Linked DNA regions of Homo sapiens. The protein of the gene in region 2 purifies or fractionates together with the protein of the main gene of each other region. This does not show direct contact. Each region holds a gene or a part of one and is shown on either strand. Other genes may lie near its edges.

Region 1 (3,659 bases), on a different chromosome or scaffold from region 2:
TTTAAAGTGTGGCACCTCCCCGCTCCTTCTCTCTTCCTCCTGCTCTGGCCATGTGAAGTTCTTACTTCCCCTTTCCCTTCCCCTTCCACCATGATTGTAAGTTTCCTGAGGCCTTCCCAGAAGCCACTATGCTTCCTGTACAGCCTGCAGAACTGTGAGCCAATTAAATCTCTTTTCTTTATAAATTATACAGTCTCAGATATTTCTTTGCAGCAATGTGAAAATGGACTAATACAGTAATAAATAGGAAGGGATGAATACAAAAAGGGCAATGAGGAAACTCAGTTTCTGGTCTGGGCATTTCCATGAGCTAGTTGTATGATCTTGGGCAACTCAATTATTCTCTAGGCCTAATTTTTTCATTTGGAAAAAAGGGAAGAGATAAGATTAGGTATCTTAAACATTTTTAAAGATTTTTAAGATCCTACTAAGTTTTTTAAAAAGCACTACAGTGCTGGGCGCAGTGGCTCACACCTTTAATTCCAGCACTTTGGGAGGTCGAGGCCGGTGGATCACCTAAGGTCAGGAGTTCGAGACCAGCCTGACCAACATGGTGAAACCCTGTCTCTACTAAAAGTACAAAATTAGCCAGGCATGGTGGCGTGCGCCAGTAATCCCAGCTACTCAGGAAGCTGAGGCAGAAGAATCACCTGAACCCAGGAGGCAGAGGTTGTAGTGCGCTGAGATTGCGCCATTGCACTCTAGCCTGGGCGACAAGAGCAAGACTCCATCTCAAAAAAAGAAAAAAAAAAGCACTACAAATTCTGTATTATTGGTAAAATGTCCATTGTTACAATCCTTTGACCCAGAAAGTCTTCTAAGAATTATCCCACAAATGTACTGGCCCATGTGAGCAAAGATTCATAAATGTGGACAAGTAAGTTCACTGGCATTTATACTAGCAAAAGGCCTACAGAGAAAATAATTAAACGTTCAGTAGAAAGCTAGTTTAAAAAATTATAGCCATCTACAAAATGGAATACTATGAAGTCATCTGAAAGACCGAGGAAATGATATGGAACAACTTCCAAAAGATATGGTTATGTGAACAAAGCATGGCAGAGAATGGTGTGTATAGTGTGTCATTTTAACTTTTAACAAAGGGGACAGTAACACAGACACAAACACATGGATGTGTGTGTGTGTATACACATATATATATACACACACACACACAAAAATATATATATATACACACACAAAAAATTCTTGTTTATGCAAAGAATATTTCTAATTGGATAAACAAGAAACTGGAATTGGATACATAAGAAACTGGTAGTAGCTGTTGCTTCTGGGAGGGCAACGAGCAGTTTAAGGTAGAAGAAAGATTGAACTTTTCATTGTAAACTATTTTCTCACTGTCTGATTTTTACCATGTATAGCTTTTTCATTAAATAAAGAAAAAAAACCCACAAAATTTTTACTTGAAAATACTTATATTCGCTACATTTTCAATTAGTCAAAAAACTTTATTTACCAAATATGTAATATTATCTGAGAAAAGATTGTTTTATGCAAATATTTTTCAAATTACCTTGAAAAGCCTGGGAAACACATCTGCTGGTTGTCCACGAATCACAAACAGACGGGAGTTTAATTTTCGTAGATTGGCATCAAGATCCTCAAGACACTGAAGCAAAAATCTAGAGAGAAGAAAGTATTATTTAAATTATTAAAAAATACATATTTAGAAGACATAAATTATTACAAAGTCATGTTATTCTAAAAGTTGAAATGCCAACCTATCATCTTATTACCTCCTATTGATATATACTTTTTCCAAAAACCATACTAATATATATTTTTTAATTATAGCACAAATTACCTAGTATTTTAATAAAATACTGAATAAAATCACTAATTTTCATTAAATAAAAGTGACTATTAGCAAAAATTTAATTTGTGAACATAAAAACATACAAAGAAGTATCAAAGCAATTAAATTGGTTTCATTGTTTAAACTTGATGAAATATTTTCTGTATGAAAATGGCTTTTCATATAGAAAGGAAAACTTGAAAAATCTAGAATATCTTCTGCTGGGGGGAAAAAACCAGAAACATCCTATGTAATGAATAAGCAAGTGAATAATTTAAGAATATCATGGTAAAAAGGAATCTGAGGGGACAAAAAAAAAAGATTATGAGTACTTTTTTGTAATATTGTAATCATTTAAGAGATTGAAATCATAATGCCCATTTTCAAGTTTCTAATTTATTAAAAAAAGAAACTAATAAGTAGATGCCAAATTATGTGGTTATTAATTCCCTGAGTGTAGAAAATGCCAGATTAACTTCTAAAAAAAAAAAAAAAGAAAAGGTTTCATGGAGTTGGGGTGGAGATTATAGACTTTTTCAATGAAATAAGTAGTAACAAGGCTTACACATGACAGATATCTAGGAAAATTCTGGGGCAGTACCAGAAGACTGCTTACTGTGCATCTTCTGTTGCGAAGAAATGGAACATTCCCAAGAACAAATTTAAAAGAGATGTCACCCATGGAAGGTCCAATCTTATTATTTGACTCATGTTAAGTTTCATTTAGATTCTGTTCTTTTCAGCTGGACGTATCTTATTTCCTATTTTGCTTCTTTTATGTTTTTGATCTCAAGGTTAAGTATTTGTCTGCCTTTTTCACAGGCCACATGGTCTTTCAGAATAGCAATTATCTCTTACTTGTGAAGAGGAGTGATTAAGAAGCAGGGAAATGCAAATTCTAGAAGTGCACTATCTAATATGGTAACCAAAAGGCACATGTAGCCATTTAAATTTAAGTTAGTTAAATTTAAAAATCAGTTCCTTAGTCACACTTGCCACATTTCAAGTCCTCAACAGCCACATGTATAGCTGGTGGCTGGCTACCATACTGAACAGTATAGCTACAGAACATTTCCATCATTGCAGAAAGTTCTACTGGACAGATTGTTCTAAAAAGCTGCTTGGTCTAGATCATTTTGTTCGCTTTACACATTCCGATACCATCATTTCACCAAATAAGTCTTGTTGATTTTTTACAACTGTAGTTATTAGTGACATAAGTGCACTAGTCAGGTCTGACACTTCTTCCTCTTTAGGAGCACCATCTGTACAGCTTGAAGAGTCAAGGTGCTATATTTTTATGAGGATGTTAAAGACATCCCACCATTTCACCTTAGGAAGTCTCATGGGTTTCCAAGTAGGAAGCAAACCTTTCTATCCCCACATTTATATTTTATCACATCCCTTTTCTGCCTTGGTTTGGAGTCACCTCCCTAACACCTGATCCCCATCCTAACCCACCACTACCAATGTACAAATATTTCAGGGGAGAAGACTGTTGTTGTTAGATGGATAGTGATATAAAAGCATTGGAGTTTAATAAAATTATCTCCAACTATGAATAATTTATCATGTCTGGTGACAAATGTTTATTGGGAAGCATCTAATTTTATGTATTTGCTTGGCAAGAAGAGTTACTAGACAGAACAAAGATCGAAGGGTTTTTACACAGATCAAAAATTAAGAAGTTGAAAGAACTAGCAATTTTAAGTTTTCTTAAATTGAAACAGTACAAAACTTAAATGTCCTGGAGGGGGTAATCTAAGGCAATAATAATCCCCTAATCTCTGTTGTACCATTAGTTTCAAAATCTTCCCCACCAGAAGTGAGTAAGAACTGAGAA
Region 2 (3,659 bases):
GGGCAGATGTAATTTTTAAATGTTTTGATAATGAAATTAGTGGTGCTAATAGATGATACTTGCTATGGGAATGGAGAAAAGTATATAGCTTAAGAGGTATTTATGGGGCAGAAATTGCAGGACTTGGTGACGGCTTGAATGTAGGGAATGAAGGAAAGGAAGGAGCCAAAGATAACTCCATGCTTTGGTCACTGAGTTAATGTTAATGTCATTTACTGATACAGTAGCATAAAGACTGTAAGTTAAAGAAGGAATTTAGATAGAAGAAAATGGGGCATATTGAGTTTGCTGTACTTATGAGAAATCTAATTGGAGAAGTATATCAGTCATTGAGATATAAGCATCTGATGCACAGAGAGATTTGGCCTAGCAGTACAGACTTCAGAGTCATTACCACATAGATTATTTAAATCATGGGAGTGGATGTGATTCACTAGAAAGAAGAGAAACGTTGAGAAGAATAAATTCCCATAACATAATTGTGAGGACCTCTTACATCTTGGTAATGGACAGAGAGTCCCCCACACAGGTGCCTGAGAAGGAGCACACAAAGAGTAGGGGAAAAGCCATTATACTCTGTTGTTATGGAAACCAAGGGAAAAAAATGTTGCCATGAGGGTGTTCGACATTGTCAATTAAAGTCAGAAAAAATATAGTGTGAGAGATGCACATTAGATTTAGCCAAAAAAAAAAAAAATCAATTTTAGCATCTCAGACTACAGTCACACCAAATGTCACATTCAGTTAAATGCATTTACTTCAAGAGTTTTGGAAAATGAATGCATTTTAACTGTGTGGATAGGGTGTTTCTGTTTGCTCCAGAGAAAAAACAGAGTTTTTCTCTTACCTGTCACTGATATTTTTCTAAATTTCAATTTCATTTTTAAAAACTTAGTCTAGCTCAAAGACAGGTAAATTCTAACCTACCCACCACTTGTTTTGGTATATGAAGTTTTATTGGAACACAGCCAAGCCCATTTATTTACAACCACACCCATTTGTTTAGTTATCTGTGGCTGCTCTTGCTCTCTAATAGAAATTGAGTAGTGACAGAAGCAGTACGGCCTGCAAAGCCAAAATTACTTATGATCTAGACCTTAACAGAAAATGTGTGCTACCTCCTGATCTGGAGTCTAGACTTTAGACTAACACACTAACTTAAAAATCTTGATTTGCAGAGTAACTCTTAATTTTACTCATCTGTGTGATTTTTGTGTTCAGACAAAAGGGATGCTTTTGGATTTGATTAGAAAAGTAAAATTCCTAAAGGAAAAAGGTCGCAGAAATACATCACAGAACATGAGCAAATCTCCCTGTGTGGTTGTGTTAACTGACGCAGCAACAAGATCTGGAAAAATGTGCATCCTCCTAGAGATATGAGGCTATACATAGAGTGCAGCTCCTGGAATATTTGTGGCAAAGACAATTAAACATTTTACCTTAGTTTACTGTTGCAATGGTGGCATCGGAAGCAGGACTTATGAAAATTCTGCTTGTCTGCCACTAGGCACTCCATTGGATAAACTGTCTTTTGACAAAGTATACATATTTCCTTGTCTTGGAGCAGCAGCTTCTAAAAATAAAAATTTACAAAGCCTTCTGTAGTGTTATCTTCAATCATATTGTAAAAACATAACAAAACAAAAACACATATTAACTGGCCATGCGGTTAAAGTAGAAAAGCTCTAAGACTACTGTCCTTATGATGTTTCTCTGGACAGAGACTAACCTATCATCAGGTTTAACGGTCTGCTAGGATGGTCTACATTACTCTAGTGCTTCTACCATTTATAGATTGTACGAGTAGACATTTATGATTTAAAAAAACATACATGAGTAAAATATGTTCATTAGACATATAAGTACATTACAAACATATATATGTGCATATATGTGAGTATATTTTTTATATATATATACATATAAAATACTCAGCAATGGGGAGCTCTGAGATAACTTATCATTGTAGGTAATTGAGTTTTCCCTATATATAAAGGCTTGTACCTAAGCTGGTCAAAAGTTTTTACTTCTTAAAGCATTTTAGATAGATCTTTCTAAAATACATATGTTTTTTAAGCCAAGGACACTGTATTTGCTTCAATATTTTCTTGATGACTTAGAGTTGACTGTAAGATACCAACTCTTAATTGTAATGCAATGAGACTCCTGAACACAGTAAAATGCTCAGGGTCATTTGTCCTCAATCTAACTGGCTTTAGATTGTGGAGCTTTTTGGATTCTCGCATCTGCTTATGTAGTTTTCCTACATCTTTTCTTGCTCCTCTAAAGCACCTATGCTCACTTCCTGTGGCTTTCCTGTAAATGTTAGCCTCTATGAATAATAGTGGTTCTATTACTAACCAGTGTTTGTATAGTGGTTTAAAACTAACACAGAACTTTCACTTCAGAATTGCTTTTTGTCCTCACAGCGATCCTGTGAGAATGACTAAGCTTTGGTATTAGTTATTTATAAAAGAAAATATGCTCAGGTTCCATTATACAAATAATTATATCTACTTTAGTGCCTAGATGGTCAATCTGGGCCACTGAGTGAACTCCTTTGCTTATTTGGTTCTAGTAGAGGACACATTTTTATGTTTATCACAAGTTTCTTTGTATGTTCTATGTGTTTTTGAGCTATCTTAACAGAAGCTGAGTATTTGAAATTAATTAGACAGCTTTGCTTAATTATGCCAGAAGCAAGCACATTAAGAACCATATTAACCTGATAAACTAGACACATATGTTGCAAATATGATGGAGGCATAATTATTAGTTTCAGCAGTTTTTATTTTTAAGCTTGCTATTTCTTTCAATCTGTCTAAAAGAATGGACTAAACTAATGATGCACATTAATTATATAAAATTCTTTTATCATGAAGCCTCATTAATTGCAAGAAGTAGGGAAATGAGCTGTTCTTTGATGTTAAAAATCATGTACTAAGTCCATATGATTTAAACCTCCCTCCTTCCAAATAAAATCAAAATTTTTAAATGCATTGTTTACGCTCATTTGTGAATGAGGTTGATTGAGCAGTGATTTAGTTTATTTTTTAGAAAAGCGAAAAAAATCAGTTAGAAAAAAATGTGGCATCAGAGAAAACTAACTCTATCCAACTCAGTAGCAATAGTTGAATATATAAAAGGTCTAATTCCACACCCACACTTTTGTCAGAGATACAGATCAATAAAAATACTAAAGCACACATGAAGAATGTAAATTGTGTCTCAGACTTCTATCAGTCTGTATTGAACTCAATGCAAATATCATTTAAACCTGGCAGTTAAAAATATGTCAATATTAGGCCAAAGGATATTATTTATTATTGTCTAGAATAATTGCATGAAATAAAATTATTGCTATACCTGTTGCTTTATCCAAAGCCTTATTTACCTTGACAAATATGTCCCAGTAATCTGTATAATAGTATTTGTTATTCTCACACAGTGCAAGTAAATCATACTCTATGCTTTTGTGAAAAGAATGTTGTAAAAGCAAGCATATAAAGAGTCTATAAGCATACATGGGAAGCTGTTAGTTTTAGGTTATATTGTTTGGTTGTTTCCACGCACTCTTTTTAACTGTACATCATTTTGGCTATGGAACACATGCCTTTAAATGGTTAATCTTCTTTAACACATTGCAAGCTCATTTACCA
Region 3 (3,659 bases), about 29 Mb from region 2:
AATTAATCTTACTACAGTCTTCTTTTCACTTGAAATTCATGCTTGAATTTAGAACTTCTCCAATAATGTTGTATTTTGGGAACTGTGTCTTATTCCATTCAAGTGTTCTGACTATGAATTACAACTGATAAGGAGCGTAGTGAACAGTGGAAAAACTGTGCTGATTGGGAAGCTCAAAGGGTGTGCTTTTCTAAGTTTTAGAAACAAAATGGAATAGGTGGAGTTTGACCAGCTGGATGTTAGCTCCTTGGTGCTTCACTGACAACACGATAAAGTAATTAATTAGTGTTCTTACGGTCACATTTCCTCACCAACAATTAAGAGTTATGACATCCTTTGACGGTGTGTAAACAGTCCTTCTCCCATCTGACAGATGAGGTAATTAGGAAAAGAAGAGAATGTACCTTGCCCAAGGTCTCAAGGGAGCCTGCATCAGACCTATGATTAGAGTCCAAGTGCTGTTGCCTGTCCTATATTCAGTTGGCAAGCTGAACCATGCCTTCCTTTAATTTGAAATTTAAAATCTAGCCATCTATAAATCAAATTTCACCTCCTCTATATTCTGTGTTGTTTCTCCAATCACTTAGGTCTATTTCAGCTGTGCCTGCGATGACCAATTCCAGTTCTCTTGCATCAAAAACAGATACCAGCCTGGCATCCACCACCTGTGGAATAAAAAGAGTACAAGGCATGGCTTAGGAGCCTGGAGAAATATCAGCTATAATTAAGCCTTAGAAAAGGGGACACATGGAGTTTCAGGAATAATATGTGTGTACCTTGTGTTGGCACTTGAAAACCTGTAAAGCTCCCTACAAATATAAGGCATTCTTTAGTATAAGGTTGATGAGATTTGCCTTGACAGAATTTTTGTTTTATAATTGATTGCTGATTAATCTAGGTCCCGTCCACCTTTAGGAAACTATCTAGTGTTTCTACAGAAAAAGTCACATACAATACATGCCAACTCATTCTGATCTCAGATATAATTATTTCACATAGCAAGCATGAGATTTGATTACCCATATCTAAGCATAAGATGCATGGCTTAAATGTTACTAGTGGTCATTAAATCAACAAATGCTACTTGAATGCAGTCCATAACATTTATTTCAGTGATCTCTCGTAACAGTGAGTTAAGCTTCTTTTGGTGCTCTTGAAACATAAGGGAAAAAATACTGAACTTTTCGCATGGAAAGAGCAACAGTAAATACAGCAGAAATAGTCTACACATGTAAAGTACAATAAGATGGACTGTGGCATCATTGATATCAGACTGCAAACTCCTCCTACTGCTGATTGTCTTTACCTCATAGAAGCCACGCACTAAGCTCTCTGTTTGCTGTACAACACCCCTCTCAATCCTCCACTTCACCATCCTCTCGATGTACTCCTTCTTGTTCTTCTCTGTAACTGGGATATTGGCACCCCCTGGCTTTAATTCTCGTTCAGTTATCTGAGATTACAAAATAAAAAGAATGACTACAAAGCAATACTCTTAATGTTATAACAACATTACTAGCATTGAGCTGAAATCAGCCAGCTACCTGTCCCAGCCCTGCCCTAGGCACATCCCACAAGCTGGCAGTGAGGCCCCAGGCACTCACGGAGCACACACACTCAGGAAAAAATAGGCATTGAGGGGGTGCTTGAAAGCTTTGGTGATTAAAGTATATATATGTATTGCTGTTACTACAGGTTAAGTTTTAAAATGCCGATGAATCGGCTTCAGATACTAGCCTGCTACTATTTGAATGTTTGACAAAACCCATTTTCACAAATTTCTCAGAATTGACTATATCTAGCGTAAAGATTTACTTTAAAGCAGAATTACACTCAAGTGAATGTTAAATTGAGAACTTTTTCAAAACACATGGAATGCAGAAAAGCAGCTAAAGATTAATGCCTAAATAAGAATATTAATTATAAACTGGTATATAATTTCTGGAAGAAACGTTTTCCCTACTCTTCCACCAATTTTGAAAAAAAAATTAATATATTCTGTTCTTAAGTCTTCCCCAAAACATTGTTTATGTTCCCTTAGCTTCAAAAAAATCAATTTTGGTTCTCTTTATTTTTCTTTTCTTTTTTGAGACAGGGTCTCACTCTCGTCCCCCAGGCTAGAGTGCAGTGGCATGATCCAGGCTCACTGCAGCCTCAACCTCTCCAGCTCAGGTGACCCTCCCACCTTGGCCTCCTGAGTAGCTGGGACTACAGGTATGTGCCACCACACCTGGCTAATTTTTGTATTTTTTGTAGAGATAGGGTTTCACCATGTTGCCTAGGCTGGTCCTGAACTTCTAGGCTCAACTGATCCTCCTGCCTTGGCCTCCCAAAGTGCTGGGATTACAGGCATGAGCCACCGTGCCCAGCCACCATTCTATAAATGCCAATTAAAAAATTCTGTAGTGTGGACTTTAAAAAACTGCATTCTATATAAGGTAAATTCTCATATTTTGGGGGATATTTTAGTTGGAAATAAAAAGAAGATTGCTTACAACATAAACAGTTATCACCATCTGTAATTTACAGCATCTTAATCTGCAGCTGACATTAATTCTAATCTTTATAACTGCGGTTATTATAACTGTGTGTGATCCTGAGTTTAAATCACCCAATAAACCACGAATAAATAAGCATCTGATCTTAGCCATGGAGTTAATTCTTCACTCATCAATAGCCTTCAGTTACCACACTTAGGCGCCAGGTGTGCAGATACACACACCTGCCCAAATACTTCTTCGTTCACAGTGAACGTGAGGTCTAGGATGTCATGGATATCATTGTCTTTCATCCACTGCAGGCTCTGATGGAACTCTTCATCAAGGTATTCTAGGTCACTCAGGTCACATAGACTAAGATGACAAACAGACAGAAACAAATATGTAGGCATGGCTATTAGCAAAAACCCAGAGTCATAAGGAAAGAAACTAAGAATTAAAGAGAAGAATAAGAGCCACTACATAGGCAGTGATTTCTGGAATGTTCTTAGTCCAAGTCCAGTAATTAAACCAAACCAGTGAAATAATTCAGAAATTTGTTATAAAATTAGAAAGTCCTAAATATATAATATGCCACAGGAATCATTCAGCCTGCGTCTTCCTTTATAGACACAGAACTGGAGGTGCAAAGAATGAGTGCCATCTGCGCAGTCATCCATCATCAATGCCAGATCAGGAACTGGCACTCGGGTTGACAACTTGGATCCATTATTCTTTCTGGCCATATTATACTACCTTAAAATACTGTTATCTTAATTTGAAATTATTTATATATTTCTATATTTTAACTTTTTTTAATTGAAAGACATGATTTTTATTTTAATATTTATTTTATTTTATTTTTTATTAAAGACATGATTCATCTTCACATACATTCCCTTTTTCTTCATGGTTCTTATTCTGAAAATAGTAAGCCACAGAACCTGCCGTCAATCTGTATTTTTCCCCCACTTTTTTTAATTGTAGAGAAAGAATCGACATGAGGTAAGTTACTGTTCCATGGCCCAGTTGTACAGTGGTAGTCATTGATTTGCTATAGCTGTTTTGAAATTTCACTCCCCTTAACCCAATTTTAAGGGTCATTTTTTTTCAGTTCAATCTGAACATTCATTAGGCATCAAGCATGTACCAGACATCTGAATAGCTACTTGATGAATAGTC

What was found.
Region 1: the proteins of XIRP2 (region 2) and CRY1 purify together in Homo sapiens (co-immunoprecipitation; one large-scale study listed by IntAct). This does not show direct contact.
Region 3: the proteins of XIRP2 (region 2) and HECW2 purify together in Homo sapiens (affinity purification with mass spectrometry; one large-scale study listed by BioGRID and IntAct). This does not show direct contact.

Annotation. Positions count from the first base shown.
Region 1 is NC_000012.12:107,020,550-107,024,208, forward strand, and holds part of CRY1 (cryptochrome-1), read right to left. Parts: intron 1,644-3,659; coding exon 1,535-1,643; intron 1-1,534.
Region 2 is NC_000002.12:167,251,946-167,255,604, reverse strand, and holds part of XIRP2 (xin actin-binding repeat-containing protein 2), read right to left. Parts: coding exon 3,658-3,659; intron 1,574-3,657; coding exon 1,479-1,573; coding exon of another isoform or gene 1,440-1,478; intron 1-1,439.
Region 3 is NC_000002.12:196,219,489-196,223,147, forward strand, and holds part of HECW2 (E3 ubiquitin-protein ligase HECW2), read right to left. Parts: intron 2,853-3,659; coding exon 2,723-2,852; intron 1,454-2,722; coding exon 1,307-1,453; intron 666-1,306; coding exon 551-665; intron 1-550. UniProt on the Homo sapiens protein: E3 ubiquitin-protein ligase that mediates ubiquitination of TP73. Acts to stabilize TP73 and enhance activation of transcription by TP73. Involved in the regulation of mitotic metaphase/anaphase transition.